Homo sapiens: one gene and its partners. The protein of the gene in region 1 purifies or fractionates together with the protein of each later gene. This does not show direct contact. Each region holds a gene or a part of one and is shown in the gene's direction. Other genes may lie near its edges. The genes, in order: CGREF1, HS3ST1, PLEKHG3, LMAN1 and TNKS2.

Region 1 (4,108 bases):
CATTTCCTCTTTTGATATGAACACCAGTCATATTGATTAGGGGCCCACCCTACTCCAGTATGACCTCATCTTAATGGATTACATCTGCAATGACCCTATTTCCAAATAAGGTCACAGTCTGAGGTATTGGAGGTTAAGACTTCAACATATAACTTTGTGAAGGACACGAGTCAATGCATAACAGTGATGGGAGCTAGGTGAGCAGATGAGCACATGAGCAGATGGAAAGTGAGGAGAGGGCCCTGAGGAACTCTGACGGTGAAGAAAATGGAGACCTTTTTGAAATGACCAGAGGTAGGAGAGGTATTGCCGAAACCAGCAGAATCCGTGATCTAAAAAGGCAGTGACAAGCAGTGTTCATCACTGGGAGGAGGACAGGATGAGAGTGGGCTTGTCGCTGTGATGACAGTGTCGCTGTGATGGAGTGTCACAAACAACTCAGGAAGAGTTCACCCTGACACCCCAATACATATGCCTCTAACACTCTGCACCGCCACACCCCTGGGCAGTCAGTCACACATTGGCCATACCCTGAAGCCCACACTATCATTTATTTTTTATTTATTTATTTATTTATTGAGACGGAGTCTCAGTCTTGCTTTGTCACCCAGGCTGGAGTGCAGTGGCGTGATCTCGGCTCACTGCAAGCTCCACCACCCAGGTTCATGCCATCCTCCTGCCTCAGCCTCCCGAGTAGCTGACACTACAGGCGCCCGTCACCATGCCCGGCTAATGTTTTTGTATTTTCAGTAGAGACGGGGTTTCACTGTGTTAACCAGGATGGTCTCCATCTCCTGACCTCGTGATCCACCCGCCTTGGCCTCCCAAAGTGGTGGGATTACAGGTGTGAGCCACCACGCCCGGCCCCTGAAGCCCACACTATCACACGGATGCACAGTCACACAAAATACCCCCTACCGTGTCACAAATTCCTCATACACAGAGCCACACATGCCAGTCACAACCGCACATGCTAACAGTAAGTTAGGTTCCATTTTGTCACATACATCTGGGTCCCTCAGGCAGAGAAAGTGGCAACCAAAGCATGAGCACAGTTAAACATACTTCTGATGCACACTGGCCTCACTGTCTCTTGGTCTCTCTGTACTCACATGTGTGCATACAGGCACACGCACACATCCGCGCACACATGCACGCTCACACACGTGCATCCTTACACATGCTCACACTCACGCTCACAATGTCACACGCATGTGCACACCCGCACAAGCACACGAGCGCACTCACGAGCACACGCGGACTCGCACACGCGCACATGCGCACTCACGCACGCACACACGCGCACACTCACACGGGCGCGCGCAGCCCCTCCGGCCGCGGGCGCAGCGGGGGCGCTGGTGGAGCTGCGAAGGGCCAGGTCCGGCGGGCGGGGCGGCGGCTGGCACTGGCTCCGGACTCTGCCCGGCCAGGGCGGCGGCTCCAGCCGGGAGGGCGACGTGGAGCGGCCACGTGGAGCGGCCCGGGGGAGGCTGGCGGCGGGAGGCGAGGCGCGGGCGGCGCAGCAGCCAGGAGCGCCCACGGAGCTGGACCCCCAGAGCCGCGCGGCGCCGCAGCAGGTGGGTGACACCCCGCCCCGGCCGGCCGGAGACCCGAGCCCATCGCCGTCAGCCAGCCAGGGCCGCGCGGGGTAGGTGGCCTCCAGCCTCTGGTCCAGATCCCGAGAGCGCAGTCCCTCTGCATCCCCTGCGGCTCAGACGCGGCGGGAGCAGTGGCCCTTGCCCCTGTGTACCCTGAGGGCAGGTGGAGGAAGGGACTGGAGAGCGAGCCTGAGGCTCCTTGGTGTGAATTTGGGGCTTCGCAGTTCCCCAGGCGCTTCCCCCAGCCCCGCATTCCGTGTTCCAGCAGTCCTGGGGGAGGGGCAGCTGGCGGGAGCTTTCCCCCTCATCCGACGGGGAAGAAATGGAGCGCTGGGGAGGGCCCGAGGCTGTCGTCCGCTTGCAGGTGGCCGAGGGACCAGCTCCCGGGTGTGGGCTCCTCTAGCCCTGTAGCCGCTGTCTCCTTTCTTGGGGGATGGGTGCTGGGAGGCACAAGGGCACCAGAGGGATAAATTAAGAATTAAGGGAGAGGATTCTACTCAAAATTTTAGCTTCCCAACAGTTCGACTCTACAGGAGATGGAACTGCCGGCCTGTGAGGTGCTAGGTTCCTGTCCTGGAATGATTCAAGCAGAGGCCATTTGACAGGGTTGCTGAGGAAGAAATTTTTGCTTTGGATGGGAAGTTACCCAGGATAACCCTGCAAGGCCCCTGCCACAGCCCAGAGGCTCTGAAATACCCAAGCAGCACCTGCTTGGTGCCAGGCACCTACCCTAAGTTTTCTCATTGCAGCCTCCCCAAACCTTTAGGAGACAGATACCGTTATCCTCATTTTTAAAATGCAGATCCCGACCAGGAGCAGTGGCTCACGCCTGTAATCCCAGCACTTTGGGAGGCCGAGACGGGCGGAACACGAAGTCAGGAAATCGATACCATCCTGGTTAACACGGTGAAACCCCGTCTCTGCTAAAAATACAAAAAAAATTTAGCCAGGCGTGGTGGCAGGCGCCTGTAGTCCCAGATACTCGGGAGGCTGAGGCAGGAGAATGGAGAATGGCGTGAACCCGGGAGGCGGAGCTTGCTGTGAGCCGAGATCGTGCCATTGCACTCCAGCCTGGGCGACAGAGCGAGACTCCGCCTCAAAAAAAAAAAAAAAAAAAAATTCAGATCCCAGGGCTCAGAGAGGTTAAGACACCTGCCTAGGTCCCACAGTGAGTAGTATCAGAGGCAGGATTTGATCAGAAGTCTAACCTGTAGAGCGTGCTCTCCTCCCATGCACTGGTGCAAAGGCTTGAAGAACACTGGGGCCGGAGGGTCATTGTGAATGTGTGAGTGCACGTGTGTGACATAACTTTATTAAATTACATGGCAACTGTTAACAGTTATGGTGGCTTTCATGTGTTTATTAGGGTAATTATGTTCATGCACATTATAGTTATAGAAAATGGTTAGGGACATTTTTATTGGACAGGCAGTGGTTCAATAACTATTTTATTTCTCTCACAAAAGCTTTTGTTAATGTTTAGAAATGTCTAAGTGTCAACACATCGCACTAACCTCATTACACATTACATGAGGTGTCTTAGCCTTTCCTTAAACCACTGAGGTGGGTTACTTGCACTAAAATGTCACAGTTGGAAGCATTACTTAGAATATTGGCCAGGTGCAGTGGCTCATGCCTGTAATCCCAGCACTTTGGGAGGCCAAGGTGGGTAGATCACTTGATCAGGGGTTCGAGAACAGCCTGTCCAACGTGGTGAAACCCCGTCTCTACTAAAAATACAAAAATTAGCCAGGTGTAGTGGTGCACACCTGTAATCCCAGCTACTTGGGAGGCTGAGGCAGGAGAATCGCTTGAGCCTGGGAAGTGGAGACTATGGTGAGTAGATTTTGCGCCACTGCACTCCAGCCTGGGTGACAGAGCGAGACTCTGTCTCAAAAAAAGAGAGAGAGAGAGAGAGAGAGAGAGAGAGAGAGAGAGAGAGAGAGAGAGAGAATAGGCCTGGCCTGGTGGCTCATCCCTGTAATCCCAGCACTTTGGGAGGCCAAGGTGGGCAGATCACCTGAGGTCAGGAGTTCAAGACCAGCCTGGCCAAGATGCCGAAACCCCATCTCTACTAAAAATACAAAATTAGCAGGTCATGGTGGCACATGCCTGTAATCCCAGCTACTCGGGAGGCTGAGGCAGGAGAATCGCTTGAACTCGGGAGGTGGAGGTTGTGGTGAGCTGAGATCGCGCCATTGCACTCCAGCCTGGGCAGCAGAGTGAGACTCTATCTCAAAAAAAAAAAAATTATACTGAAAGTCCACATCATTTACTTTTTTTTTTCTCTCTCTTTTTTTGAGACAGTCTTGCTCTGTGACCCCAGCTGGAGTGCAATGGCACAATCTTGGCTCATTGCAACCTCTGCCTCCTGGGTTCAAGCAATTCTCGTGTCTCAGCCTCCGAAGTAGCTGGGATTACAGGCACGTGCCACTGTGCCTGGCTAATTTTTATATTTTTAGTAGAGATGGGGTTTCACCATGTTGGCCAGGCTGGTCTCAAACTCCTGA
Region 2 (3,517 bases), on another chromosome or scaffold:
GAGGCTGCTCTTTTCTTATGGCAGAAGGCAGGAGAGTGCTAGCTGGATTTAAAGCCAACTTCTTGCCCCATGACCTTGGGCAACAATTTCTCCCTCCCTGACCCTAAATTTCTTCCTCTGCAAAACAGTGATGAAAAGATTATTATAAGAAAGTGAGAAAATGTATATGAAATGCATCTTGCCGATTGGAGAACACTTGTGCAATTGTAAAGGGTAAAAAATACAAAAAATTAAGTTTTATCGTAGATCTATTTTAATGTTCATTTTAATCATAGTTTGCATATGTCTGAGTAAATGACATATGCTAAACATTAAGTGGGAGAGATTTCTTTTAATTGGCCAGTCTCTTCTTGTGATCACTCCACCTGAATGCTACAAGCACCGGGCCTCACTACTTCTCAGAATGATTCCTTTCTTGTTTTCAGGATCACAGTCAATTTTTAGAGTGTTTTTCCTTTTAACATAATACACATTACATGTCTTAAGAAAATCTGTTTGAAGAGAGGGCCCTGATGTTAATTAATAATTTTTTTAAAAAAGGAGAAAAGTCACAAATGGGGAGTGACTCCACTGGGGAAAAGTAAAACATGACCAGTGTCACGAGATGACCCGGGTCCCCCTTGTCTGAATCTTTCATCAGCATAATGCACTGGCTCCTCATCATTGCATTTTAGGTGTTGTTCCAAACGTGTCTCCAGAACCTAACTCAGTGCCTGCCTGGCACTTAGACATTCAATAAGTATATTTGGAATAATTGAATGAGTGATTGGACTGAATCTTCACAGCAACCTTGGAGAGCAGATGGCGTCATTTCTATTTTAAGGATTTGGAATCTGCCGATCGGAAAACTTAATTAATTTTCTAAAGGTACAAAGGATTCCAGACTAGAATTCAGGCCTGTCTGTTCTTATTCCACTCTACAGTCGTGCTTGTAGTGCCCTCTCTCTTCAGACTCACTTAAAACCCTTCTAAGCAGTTGGAACCAAACATCCTATTTAGGGAACACAACCTTCCCTTCATAGAAGGATTTTTTTTTTTTTTTGTGGGAGATGGGCCTCTTTCTCCTTGTCCATATCTCCCAGCCCTGAACTAGGGCTTAGTTGAATGATCCCACCTGGGGCCTGGAATCTTGAAAGACTAGCTAAAGGGCACAGGGACATTGGAGTGTTTATTTACCACCTTGGATCATGGATCAAGTGGCGTTGGCAGCAGTATGCATGTCCCAAGCTGTGGTCCCAGAGGTGCCTTTTCTGCAACACCATCTTGATGTGCCTCTGGTGCCCAGGTTCCTTTCATTCCTTCTCATTTTCCAATCCTGGCTTTTCAGCTTCTCAGCAATTCCTAGAGGCAACCCATAGTCTTCAAGTGAATTCCCTTTCTCCCTGACTTAGCCAGAATTGCAACCCACTGATGTACAGCTTCTCCCCATTCATCTTCAGGCCTGTCTCCAGCATGAAACATCCTTAGCTTCCTCTACCCATGGGGAATGAAGTCTGTAGCTTTTTCAGATCGTTAGAATAATATCTACTGGGCCGTAGTTTGTCAATAGTTATGTGCTACTACAAGAGGTCTAGAAAAATGAATACATTATTCTTCCAAGCAATACTCTAAACATAACAGAAATAGATCCCAGTGGGCATCTTTCTTTTTCTCTAATACATTATGCTTTTTGGTAGTTTTCCAGCAGGGGTCGCAAACTCTAATGTCTTCAGCAGCCAGGCAAGTAACAGCTTGAGTGGAACAGGACTTGGGCCCTGTGCCTGGGTAAGTGGGGGTTGTAGCCCAGATCCAGCACAGGGGCTGCAGGCGGGACTTCAGGTCTGGTCTTGCCAGACCTGGTTATGTTTTTTTTTTTTTTTTTTTTTCAAGATAGACTGTCAATTCACAGTTTTATGTAAAATCTACTCACTTTCAAGTGCCAGCAGCTAATTCGATATTCCTAAATAACACCATGTGGGCCAAACCAAACATTTCTGTGTGTAAGCCTTATATCTGTCACACAGGCCTCCAATGTATGGCCTCTGGTTTCCAGGGATATGAGGGAAATTTGGAATATGAAATTCAGGAGGGCATGTTGTTCAGAATATCGAGGCAAGAGTGTAGGGACATGGAGCACAGACAGTGCTCTAGTTAGTTACTGTTTACAGAGTGAACCTCTGTTCGGGATGTTCCTTCTTCCTATCTCTGCAAGTGGTTACAGCAATCATGTTTACTCCTTTAACACGTTTATTGAGTTCCAGCCATGTACCGCATATTGTTCTGCTCACCGGTGACACAGTAGGGAACAAAACAGATGGAAGTCCTCGCCCTTGTGCTTATCTTCCAGCAGAGGAGACAGACAAAACACAAGACAGATAAGCAGAATCTCTCCTAGTTAGATAGTGATGTGCTAAGGATTAAAAAATAAAAACTAGAGGAAAGTGATAGGAAATATCAGGATACTGGGGAGAAACCTTAGGCTGTTAGCCAGGGAGCCTGCAGTTCAGTCTCTGGCTCAACATAACCCAAAGTTAAATTTCATTATCCAACATAAAATATTTTCTATGTGGGAGTTTGATTGTATCCTGGGTCTATCATCCATTGGGTAGTTTTGGATATTGAGCTATACTCTCAATTTTAATAAAACTGACTATTGAGCACGTTTATTGTCTGCCATGTACCCGGCATTGCATTACGTGTTAGAGTACATTGATGAACAAAACCAGTCAAGGACTACTCTGCAAGGAAATTATAGACCAGCATGAAATACATTAAACATGATCTCAAATGATTAGGCAACTACAGTGATTGAGGACTGTGGTAAGGATGCCTTAATTGTTGAGTTTTCATACTCAGAACTCTGACGTTCAGCACTTTTTTTTTTTTTTTTTTTTTTTTTTTTGACGGTGTCTCGCTCTTGTTGCCCTGGCTGGAGTGCAGTGGCGTGATCCCAGCTCACTGCAACCTCTGCCTCCTGGGTTCAAGGGATTCTCCTATCTCAGCCTCCTGAGCACCTTTTAACTTGATCATTTGTTTTGTTCCAGGAACAGTTTACATCTGTGCTTATTAACTTACTTTAAGCCTGCTCCCATCGTCCACGGAAATTTTTTTGAGGCTTTAATTTCTTTATCTGGCAATGACATTTTTATTATAAAATTTCATTTTGCATTATTAAAAGTATTTATTTTTAAAAAATGTGTTCCAAGTGTAAAGTGTGCTTGTGCCCTTGGAGACTCTGGTACACCTTCTCCCAAATCTGCCCCTACCTTTGCTATTGATTGTCGTTCACAAGGCAGTTGTGCAGGATATTAAGAAATAGTTCTTGTCATTGATGAATTTACAGTTTAGTATGGGAGTCAGATAAATAACCGAGTCTCTGCCTGTCTCATGAGATGGACCATCCCAAGAATATTTCCCTTTCATCACCTTCTTTCTTTCATGGTAATAATTTCTTCAGTAACATAATTAGGTAGCAAGTATGTTTATCTGGAGTCACCTTGTTACTGGATTGGCTTATTTGCTTACTTTCTCACACTCT
Region 3 (3,517 bases), on another chromosome or scaffold:
ACCAGCCTGGACAACACAGTGAGGCCTCATCTCTACAAAATTAAAAAGTTAGCTAGGCATGGTGGTGTGCACCTATAGTCCTAGCTACTCTGGAGGCTGAGGTGGGAGGATCACTTGAGCCTGGAAGGCAGAGGTTGCAGTGAATGGATATCGTGCCCCTGCACCCACCCAGCCTGGCTGACAGATGAGACCTTGTTGCAAAAAAACAAAACAAAACAAAACAAAAAAAGAAATCAATCTGTTGAACTTGTGGGAACTGTAGACCACAAAAAGATCAGGAAAGTCACTAGGGAGGGACTTGGGCCACATGCAGGCACTTTACTGCCTGGGCTCAGCCATCTACTCTGACTTCCTTGAGGTTTTTTCTGCTTCTGCTTCCCACTCAGAGAGCTGAGATGAGCTGACAAGTGTATTCTATTGATAATTAAGTTCTATTGTTTAATTTAAATTATGTCTCACTTATTAAATATTCTTGATAAGTTTTAAAATGAAAGAATAGAACATTTTCTACTTTTCACTTTAAAAACAATTAGGCATTTACTTACATTGATACAGATAGTGTATGTATGTTGTGTGTGTCAGCAGAAAAGAGGTTCTTCAACAGGCCTGCCTGCTGAGGAACAGCAAGATACCTTGGTAGACTTTCCTTCTGACTCCAGGTGTGTAGCAAATCATGGCGATCCCTGGGCCTCCCACTTACCGCCAGCTGGGCAAGGATATGGATAGGCGAAGGCCGAGGCTCTGTAGAACTGGACCTTGAGACAAGGTCCTCTTATTCCTGCCCTCCAGTCTCAGGTGTATCCTCAAAAAGGCTGGGGTACACGGTGATGACACCATTGGCCTAATGGATGTGTTTTGTATCCTGTCCCCAGAGCCTGGTCACTCTCCGTACAGCCGGGCAACTCTCCCCAGCGGTCAGCGAGGCTTCGTGATGCCCAGCCTTAAGGGCCGTAGAAAGTCGGGTGCGACCTCTGCTTTCCAGCTGGGATGCTGTGAGGGGCTTGGCAGTGGGTGTAGCTGATGCGCTGATATGCTCATTGCCAGGGAGGCAAGGGGCTTGAGGTGGAGCCAGGGACCTCCGGAGATGTTGCTAGTTGGTCTGAAGGGGGTAGCATGGAACTGAGTCCCCTCCCTATGGCTCCTGCGCGAGGGCCCTGGGCCAGGTGCCCTAATGCATTGCATCATGGGTGGTACTGCTCCGGCAGGGCTGGTAGTCACAGCGGGGGTCCTGGAGATGGATGGGCCCGCCTCCCTGTCCGTAGGTGCAAGGGGGCTCGCCGACACTGTGGAAGGCAGCTTCCCTGGGGCCTATGACTGCAGGGGGCCAAGCCAGAGTGGACTTTGAGCTGGTGATGGGCTGGTGGCGCTGTGAGCTTGGGACCCAGCCAGGCACAGCAGTTTCCTGGCCCGCGCTGACTCTGCTCATGCTTTCCTCCTCAGAGCCAACCAAACACCTGCTCAGGCAACTCAACGAGAAAGGTGAGTGTGTGAGGTGGCCAGCCATTCCCAGTGAGCGGGGGAGGAGGAGGGAGGAGGGGAAGCAGCCGACAACCTGGGGTGTGACCTGAGGGTGGAGGATTGTCAGAATAGTGTAGAGGGAACTCTGCCTCCATTCCCCCCAGAAGAGGGCCTCGCCCCTGGCTGGCTGAGGAGAGGGGCTGGAGCTCTCCCCCATGCACAGGCCTCATGCCCTTTCCTCCGGAAACAATGAGAGCCGAGCAACAGGCACAGACCTGCGCTGCTCTGTGGCCCCTGGGCCCCTGCTCTGTCAGTCATTCTTTTGAAAGCCCAGGAGACTAGGTGAGGGTTCTGGGAGCAGGAGCCCCCAGTGAGGACTTCCCCAGGGAGCTGTCCAGAGGTCTTTTTCCTGCTTACTGATCTCTTCCCCTCCCCTCCCCTGCCCCTCGCCCGTGTGCTGGGGGACCCGGTGGTGATGTCTGCAGCCCGAGCAGCAGGAATGAAGGTAAAGGCCAGTGGGAGGAGGGGACTGGCTGACAGAGGAGGGTGGGACTGCCCAGGTCAGCCCCCGGCCCCTTCAGCCCTCATTGTCTTCATTCATTCAACAAATGCCTACTAAGCACCCACTGTGTACCAGGCTGTGTGGCTTAGGGCCACAGAGATGAATAAGACATGGGCCTTGCCCTGGGGGCCCTTCTGCACCCTCTGCCTAGAACAGCACCCTGCTGGGGGCCTGCCCAGTGTGGACCTACTCAGATTTCCCTCTCCCTAGGGTAGACAAGTAGGCAGGCCTGTTTGGGTTCTGAAGTTTTGACCAGGTCCCAGCCTTTCCACCATGAGAATGCCCACCCCTCCCTGGACCCCAGTGGCAACCTGAGTTGGGCATCTAGGTGTGGCTTTCTGTGTGAAGGCTCCCCCCCCGCAGCTGCCTGCAGGAGGACGGGAGGTTGCCCAAGAGGCTGGTCACGAGGGGGTCTTGTGCTCTGAACAGCATGCAGGCAGTGCTGGAACCCTCCTGGACTTTGGGCAGCCCTCCCGTACTCGGGGCCTGCAGCCAGAGGCTGAAGGGGCTACCCAGGAGGAGGAAGAGGAAGAGGAGGAGGTGGTGGAGGAGGAGGAGGAGGAGGAGGAGGAAGAGCAGGCCTTTCAGGTCTCTCTGGAGGACCTGACAGGGCATGAAGGCAACGAGAAGGGGGCTGGGCCGGAGCCCCCAGGCTCAGAGGAGGAGGAGGAGGAGCAGGAGGAGAGCCTGGCGGTGGCGGAGCAGGTAGCCGACTTTGCCAGCTCCCTGCTGGCCGCCCTCCACTGCTGGCACTATCGGGCCAACGCTTTACTTTTCTCCCGGGGCGCTATGGTGAGGTGTCTCTTCGATCTCCCCTCCTCCTTGCATGCTCCCTGGGATGTGCATGCCCACCCGAGGGCCCCCTCTGCTGCCCTCCTCACCCCACCCTGCCCTGGTTTTACTCCTCCCCTCAGCACTTAACACCATCGCTCGCTGTCACACCCTGGTGAGCCCCTGGCATGCTCTGTTCCAGTACTGGGCACTAATCAATATAACGCCCAACAAGCATGACAAGTGGGGTGGGGTGGTGGGGGCAGGGAGAAGCTAGCACACAGTGGGGCTGGAAAGGTCAAGTCCACTTTGGAGGGACAGAAAGGTGGGCTGAGGTTTTTTGAAGCTGCATGCCTGACAAGGCTTTCCGCAGCCCCAGGCCTGGCAGTTCAGGTTGGCTCTGGAATGGCTCAGGTCCAAGACTGGCTCTCAGCTCAGCCCAGCCCCTTGGGGCGTGGGAGGCACTGCCCGTGTTGGGATGCAGAAGGGATCAGCTTCCAGTTGTCTTGGAGTTGATGACTGACCTCTACCTCTGCAGGGAAAGGGGCGCAGGGAGTCTGAAAGCTCCAGGAGCAGCAGAAGGCCCAGTGGCCGGTCTCCAACCAGTACTGAGAAGCGCATGAGCTTCGAGTCCATTTCTTCCCTGCCAGAGGTGAGCGACCAGCAGGTGGGATGGGGATAGTAGGAAGAACTTGGAGTCCAGATTTTCAAGTCTGCAAATAGGGC
Region 4 (3,517 bases), on another chromosome or scaffold:
AGGAGAATTGGTTCTTCTTGATATGTTTGATAGAATTCAGCTATAAGTCCATCTAGTCCCGGCTGTTGTTAAGAGATTTTTTTTTTTACTACTGATTCAGTCTTGCTACTCATTATTGATCTGTTCAGGAGTTCTGTTTCTTCCTGTTTCAGTCTCAGAAAGTTGTGTGTTTCCAGGAACTTATCCATTTCCTCTAGGTTTTCTAGTTTGTGAGCATATAGGTGTTCAAATAGTTTCTGACGATCTTTTGTGTATTTGTGGAATCTGTTGTAATGTCTCCTTCTTTTCTGATTGTGTTTATTTGGATCGTCTCTCTTCTTTTCTTGCCTAGTCTAGCTAGTGGTTTATCAATTTTGTTTATCTTTTCAAGGAAGCAACTTTTTGTTTTGTTGATCCTTTATTAATTTTTTTGGTCTCTATTTCATTTAGCTTTGCTCTTATGTTTGTTATTTCTTTTCTTTGCTAACTTTGGGTTTGGTTTGTTCTTGTTTTTCTAGTTTGCAGAGGAATAATGTTAGATTGTTTGCGATCTTTCCACTTTCTGATGTGGCATTTAATGCTGTAAACTGCCCTCTTCACACTGCTTTTTTCAGTTTTGGTTTGGTGTTTCCATTTTCATTCATTTCAAGAAATTTTTACATTTGTGTCTTAATTTCTTCATTGACAAAGTGAATGTTCAGGAGCATGCTGTTTAATTTCCATGTGTTTGTTTAGTTTCTTAAGTTCCTCTTAGTATTGATTTCTAGATTCATTCCATTGTGGTCTAAGACACTTGATATGATTCTGATTTTCAAAAATTTGCTAAGACTTATTTTGTGGCCTAATATGTAGTCCTGTGTCGGAGAGTCTTCTATGTGCTGGTGAAAAGAATGTATATTCCATAGTTATTGTAGAAAGTTCTGTAAATGTCTAAGTCCATTTGGTCTAAAGTCCAATTTAAGCCCAATGTTTCTTTGTTATTTTTCTGTCTCGATCTATCTAGTGTTGTGTGTGTGGTGTTAAATTCTCCCACTATTATTGTATTACTGTTTTTCTCTTTCTTTAGGTCTCGTAATAATTGTTTTCTGAATTTTGATGCTCTAATGTTGGGTGCATATAAATTAGGATTGTTATATCCTCTTGGTGAATTGATCCCTTTATCATTATATAATAACCTTCTTTGTCTTTTCTTTTTTAAGTCTGTTTTATCTCATATAAGTACAGCTACTCCTCTCACTTTTGGTTTCCATTTGCTTGGACTATTATTTTCCACCTCTTTACTTTCAGTCTATGTGTGTCTTTATGAATAACCTAAGTTTCTTGTAGGCAGTATATAGTTGTGCCATGTATTTTAATCCATTCTGCCAGTCTGTATCTTTTAGTGGAACATTTAATCCATCTGCATTCAAGGTTAATATTGATATATGAGGCTTTGTTCTTGTCATATTGTTCATTATTTTCAAGTTGTCTTATAAATTCTTTGTTCCTTTCTTTTTTCCATCTTTGTCTTTGTCATTTGATGAAATTCTGTCATGTTGCCATTTGATTCTTACATCTTCCTCCCCTCTGTGATTGTTTTATAAGAACTTTTATTTTATATTTCTGTTTTTATCATGGTGAATATTGCCCTTTTGTTTCCATGTTTAAGACCGCTTTGAGCATTTCCTGTCATGCTGGTCTGGTAATGACGGATTTCCCCAGCATTTGCTTGTCTGGGAAAGGCTTTATTTCTTCTTCATTTGTGAAGCTGATTCTAGCAGGATATAAAATTCTTGGCTGACAGTTTTTTTTTTTCTTTTATTAGCACTTTGAGAATGCCCATTCCTTTCTGGCCTGTAAAGCTTCTGCTGAAAAGTCTGCTGTTAATCTGATGGAATTTCCATTATAAGTGACTAAATACTTCTCTCTTGCTAATTTTAAAATTATTTCACATTGACTTTAGACATTCTGAATACAATATGCTGTAGTGAAACCCTTTTTGCAATATATTTTTCTGGGGATTGCTGGGCCTCCTGTATCTGGACATCTAACTCTTTTGCTAGACTTGGGAAGCTCTCATCAATTATTTTCTTAGTTATTCTCCTTAGCCAGACAACAACTGCAGCCATATGAACTTGAACTCGGACTAAGGATAGGGCACAGCCCAGCATGAAACTCTCAAAATTGTGCCTTGTGCCTGGGACCAGGGAGAGCAGGGCCCTTCCTAGTCAGGTGTCATGAGCAAGAAGCTGTAAGGAGTGCAGTCTGCTCACATCTCAGTTTCACAAGAGCCCATTGCAGGGCAGTGGGTATTGTCCTAGATATGCATAGGAGAGCCTGTTTCCTGTCTCTCCTTGGCCAGGTGGTAGCTACAGCCTTGTCAGCCCAAACATAGCCTGAGGGTGGGGCACAACCCTCCATTAAACTCTCAGTGTTTCACCTTGGGTCTGGGACCAGAGAGGGTAGGGTCCCTTCCAGGCAAGCAGCATGGGCAAGAAGCTGTGGGGAGTGCTGTCTACTCATGTCTCAGTATCAGCAGCACCCTTCAGCAAGGCAGGAGGGACCTTCCTAGGGGTGCATGGGAGTGACCAGTGTCCCCCCTTCTCTCCTTGGAACATTGCAGCGACTGCAGCCATGTCTGTAGATCCCCAGTATCTAGGCTATCAACAGTGGTGCCCAACTGGAGCTGTTGTAGGCTCAAATGCCTGTGGGATTCCATGTGGTTTCCCTTTATGGAGCAACATCTCTGTGCAATATTTAGGCAGTTCCATATGTCCAGCCCACAGCCCTAGTGGGTCAGAGGTTTCTCCTGTAGCCAGGATCATAAAAGCCCATTTTGGACTGCAGGGCCCTGGGGTTTTCTCTCTTACTGTTTCCCATCATCTAGGAGCCCTTCTGGTGCTCAGTCAGCTCCTGGCTGGGCAAGCTGCCTCAAACTCTCTCCTTATTTTGGTGCTTCCCATTTCTTCTCTGATGAATCCTAGCATTCTCTCCTAGGCAATCTATTTGAAATGCAAGTATCTACTTACTACTCTGGTTTTTCTCCGTGGAGGAGGTACATACTACTTGCATCTGGTTAGCCATTTTGATCCCTCCTGAGATTATCCAAGAAAAATTGTTTTTAAATAAAAAAATTTAAACCCAGTTTATAATAAGTGTTCAATCACCTGAAATGGCAGAAAACAAATAATTTAATCATTATTGAATTAATTATTTGCATATTTTCTGTTTGGGAGATTGTACCACTGTGATGGTGATGTCCTAATTTTGCTGAATGTTGGCACTTTGGTCACTTACGTTATTTCAAAAACTACATATGTGTAGGTGACTCTGATCATTTTTATTTATTTCCTTTTCAGCGGAGGAAATATTTGAGAGTGTAGGAGATCGAGAGCTAAGACAAGTCTTTGAAGGACAGAATCGTATTCATCTTGAAATCAAGCAGCTGAACCGGCAGTTAGATATGATTCTTGATGAACAGAGAAGATATGTCTCTTCCTTAACAGAGGAAATCTCTAAAAGAGGAGCAGGAATGCCTGGGCAGCATGGGCAGGTGGGC
Region 5 (3,517 bases), on another chromosome or scaffold:
TATAGATTCAGAAGGTTTGTAACAAGAAACTATGGGAAAGATACACTCACCGGAGAAAAGAAGTTTCTGAAGAAAACCACAACCATGCCAATGAACGAATGCTATTTCATGGTAAGATTCCTCCCCACCAACTCTACCACTGTCTTCCACATTAGGATAGTTTTTTTGTTCAGATATGAAATAATAATAAGCCTGTATATTCTTTATGTCAGTATTTTAAGATAAACCTACTATTTCTGTAACTTTCACATTTATATTTTCAACTTCTTTTGAATTTGTGTATTTTATAATGGATTGTTTTTAAATAAGATTACCACAATAAAAATAGAAATGAGAGTGTTGACTATCTTTTCCTTTTTTCTTTAAATAGTAAATTTTGCTTATGGTCACTCTAGGAAATTTTGTGTTTTCCATTTAACTAGTTGATTGAATTAAAAATAAGACCTGGGAATCACCTCAGAAGAAGGTGTACATCCTATTCTGATTTTGATTCTAAGTATCAAACCCACACAATTTGAAAAGAGCCATTGTTATTGAACCTGTAGAGGTTTCTGATGACTGTAGAATTGAAACCATAGAATTGAATTGAAAGCACAATTACTTATTCTTCTTGGAATTTTCTACTTTTTTTGTATTATAAGCTGGCAGGTGTTGATTAGTCTTTCAAATTTTAGCAAAGTTAAACATATTAATGTAGTATTTATGAGGGCTTCAAGTACATTACCCATAGTAGTTCCAGTCTGTTTCTTCATTTGTCCTTGATTGCAGAAAAATTTTAGAGACCTGTAAAGTTCTCTAAAACACAGTAAATTTCATAATACCCTGGGAGAATGGCTGTAACAGAATGGATTCATGTGCAGAATCTAAACATGTTGCACTCCTTATTCCAAAACCCTAAATAATTATCATGATAATCTCTTGACACAGAGCATATTTATTTATCTGTTAATTGATGGTTATAATATGGTTTTTCTAATTTGTAATATAAATAATTTTGGTTTTCCCAAGTTAATTCAAAAAATGATTCTATTCATCTGTATTTCTGTAAAGTAGAATTCAGTATATTTTCCTGTCTGTCTGTGGAAAGGGAATGTGATCTTGATAAATGAATTAGCTGTGGTTTTTTGACTTTTTCCATCCCCCACTCTACTCCACTCCCAAGGAAAGAGGAGAGAGAAGTCAATGTGCAGGGGGTGAGGGAAAGCACCACATTTGCAGATAGAATCTTGTATCGTAATTAATGAAAGGCAGAAGTGGAAGGATAGAAGAGAAGAGGTATAAGAAAGAGAATAAGAATGTGAAAGTTGGGCCGGGTGCGGTGGCTCACGCCTGTAATCCCAACACTTTGGGAGGCCAAGGTGAGTGGATCACCTGAGGTCAGGAGTTTGAGACCAGCCTGACCAATATGTTGAAACCCTGTCTCTACTAAAAATACAAAAGTTAGCCAGGCATGGTGGTGTGCACCTATAGTCCCAGCTACTCAGGAGGCTGAGACAGGAGAATTGCTTGAACCCGGGAGGCAGAGGTTGCAGTGAGCCAAGATCATGCCACTGCACTCCAGCCTGGGCCACAGAGCGAGACTACATCTCAAAAAAATTTAAAAAAAAAAAGAATGTGAAAGTCTACTTGGGCCACTTGGTATCTTCAAAAAAGCACACAGGCATAGGCATCATTCTAAGACCTAATTGCATTTAGCTTTGCTATCTAAAGTGAATTATGAGCCTCTTGGTTTTAGATTTTTATGGATTTGCAGTCTGGCATTTGGTAACTCTTACACTGATATTTCAAGTACTCTGTTTTTCTAGTTCAATCTGTGTCCTTATTTTAGCACATAAACCAGCACTCTGTTAGAAACATTAGTTGATGTTAGCAGTTCTTTATTCTAAAATAGCTGGCTGACAGTTAACTTGTTACCCTTTTTCGTTTTGGCTTTATTATGGTTGGGCTATATATTTAAGAATTCAGTTTCTAAGAAACTAGTTTTTTACTTTTTATTCTAAGATAAATTTTAAATTATTGTTACCCATCTATATGTGTTTCAGGGTCTCCTTTTGTGAATGCAATTATCCACAAAGGCTTTGATGAAAGGCATGCGTACATAGGTGGTATGTTTGGAGCTGGCATTTATTTTGCTGAAAACTCTTCCAAAAGCAATCAATATGTATATGGAATTGGAGGAGGTACTGGGTGTCCAGTTCACAAAGACAGATCTTGTTACATTTGCCACAGGTAAGAGATCACTTGTTCTCATTTATTTTGGTGGTAATCAGATAAGAACTAGTTGCATTTTTGAGGGCAAAGCATTATGTTGGACAGTCTTAGGAATGCAAGCTAGGCATGTTTTAGATTGCTTTTGGCCCTCTCACCAATTGTAATAATAGCTAATATTTATTAAATGATCCGTATGGGCCAATTATAATTTAAGCACTTGACCTGTTTGGCTAATTTAATCATTAGAATATCTGGTGCCTTAAAGCATACTGAGTAGAAAGTAACATTAGGCATGAAAGAGGCTTTATTGTAGCCCTTGAGTATTGTAGGACTCTGTGGACTCTAAAAATCTAGTATTCAAATGCTAAAATGGCATTATTTGTCAAATCTAATTATTTGATGGCAGTGCCTGAGCCTCTCTTCCACTGTGATACGATCCTAATCCTCAATTTGCAATATTACTATAAGAACTTGAAATTAAAACATTGATCCTTTTTGAAAGGAAATAATAATCAAATAACTACTTTGCACTTTTTTTTTCCACTTTTAATTACCTGTTCTAACTCACTTGTTAAAAATCATTTAAGTAACTTGTCCCTAACTTATAAAATCCTTATAGGCAAAAAGTAATGCCACTTGAAAAATCCAGTAAGATTAATTCCTGAGATTTATTCGACAGTTAGGGCACTGCTTATTGAATATACAGAGCAGTAGTTTATCAAGCATTAGCATGCATTAGAGTCACCTAGATGGCTTGTTTAAATCACAGATTCTTAGGCTCCACCTTCTCAGTTGCTGATTTAGTAGATCTGGGATGAGACTCTAGAATTTGAGTTTCTACCAAGTTCCCAGATGTGACACTGTATTTCTGACCACTGATCTAGAAAAAAACCCCTAGAGCAGTACTTTGCACTTTGGCAGCACATTGGAATCACCCAGGGAATATTAAAAAACTATTAATGCCTGTGTCCCACCCTCACAGAATCTCTTTTAATTGGTCTGGGGCATGATCTGGATATTAGAATTTTTAAAAGCTTCCCAGTTGATTTCAAAGGGCTTCCGAGCTGAAGAATTGCAGTCATGGAGGGAAACAGGTTCTTTCTTTGTGTTTGTTTTGTTCTTACTGTTACCCCTCTAAATTTAGGCCTGCATAGGTAGTACACAGTAGGCCCTCCTATGTATGACGTCCCACTCACTTCTATTTTAGATCATAAATTGGAGTGGTTAGGAGGCATGTAATTTCCTGTAAATTGAACACTGCTGTTTTTATTTGTCATATATGGTCTGAAGGCTAAATAGTTCTGAT

What was found.
Region 2: the proteins of CGREF1 (region 1) and HS3ST1 purify together in Homo sapiens (affinity purification with mass spectrometry; one large-scale study listed by BioGRID and IntAct). This does not show direct contact.
Region 3: the proteins of CGREF1 (region 1) and PLEKHG3 purify together in Homo sapiens (affinity purification with mass spectrometry; one large-scale study listed by BioGRID and IntAct). This does not show direct contact.
Region 4: the proteins of CGREF1 (region 1) and LMAN1 purify together in Homo sapiens (affinity purification with mass spectrometry; one large-scale study listed by BioGRID and IntAct). This does not show direct contact.
Region 5: the proteins of CGREF1 (region 1) and TNKS2 purify together in Homo sapiens (affinity purification with mass spectrometry; one large-scale study listed by BioGRID and IntAct). This does not show direct contact.

Annotation. Positions count from the first base shown.
Region 1 is NC_000002.12:27,116,315-27,120,422, reverse strand, and holds the start of CGREF1 (cell growth regulator with EF hand domain protein 1 isoform a precursor), read left to right. Parts: upstream 1-1,294; 5' UTR 1,295-1,577; exon of another isoform or gene 1,578-1,648; intron 1,649-2,937; exon of another isoform or gene 2,938-4,108. UniProt on the Homo sapiens protein: Mediates cell-cell adhesion in a calcium-dependent manner. Able to inhibit growth in several cell lines.
Region 2 is NC_000004.12:11,422,386-11,425,902, reverse strand, and holds part of HS3ST1 (heparan sulfate glucosamine 3-O-sulfotransferase 1 precursor), read left to right. Parts: intron 1-3,517. UniProt on the Homo sapiens protein: Sulfotransferase that utilizes 3'-phospho-5'-adenylyl sulfate (PAPS) to catalyze the transfer of a sulfo group to position 3 of glucosamine residues in heparan. Catalyzes the rate limiting step in the biosynthesis of heparan sulfate (HSact).
Region 3 is NC_000014.9:64,735,413-64,738,929, forward strand, and holds part of PLEKHG3 (pleckstrin homology domain-containing family G member 3), read left to right. Parts: intron 1-1,440; coding exon 1,441-1,479; intron 1,480-1,943; coding exon 1,944-1,963; intron 1,964-3,329; coding exon 3,330-3,443; intron 3,444-3,517. UniProt on the Homo sapiens protein: Plays a role in controlling cell polarity and cell motility by selectively binding newly polymerized actin and activating RAC1 and CDC42 to enhance local actin polymerization.
Region 4 is NC_000018.10:59,338,754-59,342,270, reverse strand, and holds part of LMAN1 (protein ERGIC-53 precursor), read left to right. Parts: intron 1-3,317; coding exon 3,318-3,511; intron 3,512-3,517. UniProt on the Homo sapiens protein: Mannose-specific lectin. May recognize sugar residues of glycoproteins, glycolipids, or glycosylphosphatidyl inositol anchors and may be involved in the sorting or recycling of proteins, lipids, or both.
Region 5 is NC_000010.11:91,857,420-91,860,936, forward strand, and holds part of TNKS2 (poly [ADP-ribose] polymerase tankyrase-2), read left to right. Parts: intron 1-5; coding exon 6-111; intron 112-2,042; coding exon 2,043-2,229; intron 2,230-3,517. UniProt on the Homo sapiens protein: Poly-ADP-ribosyltransferase involved in various processes such as Wnt signaling pathway, telomere length and vesicle trafficking.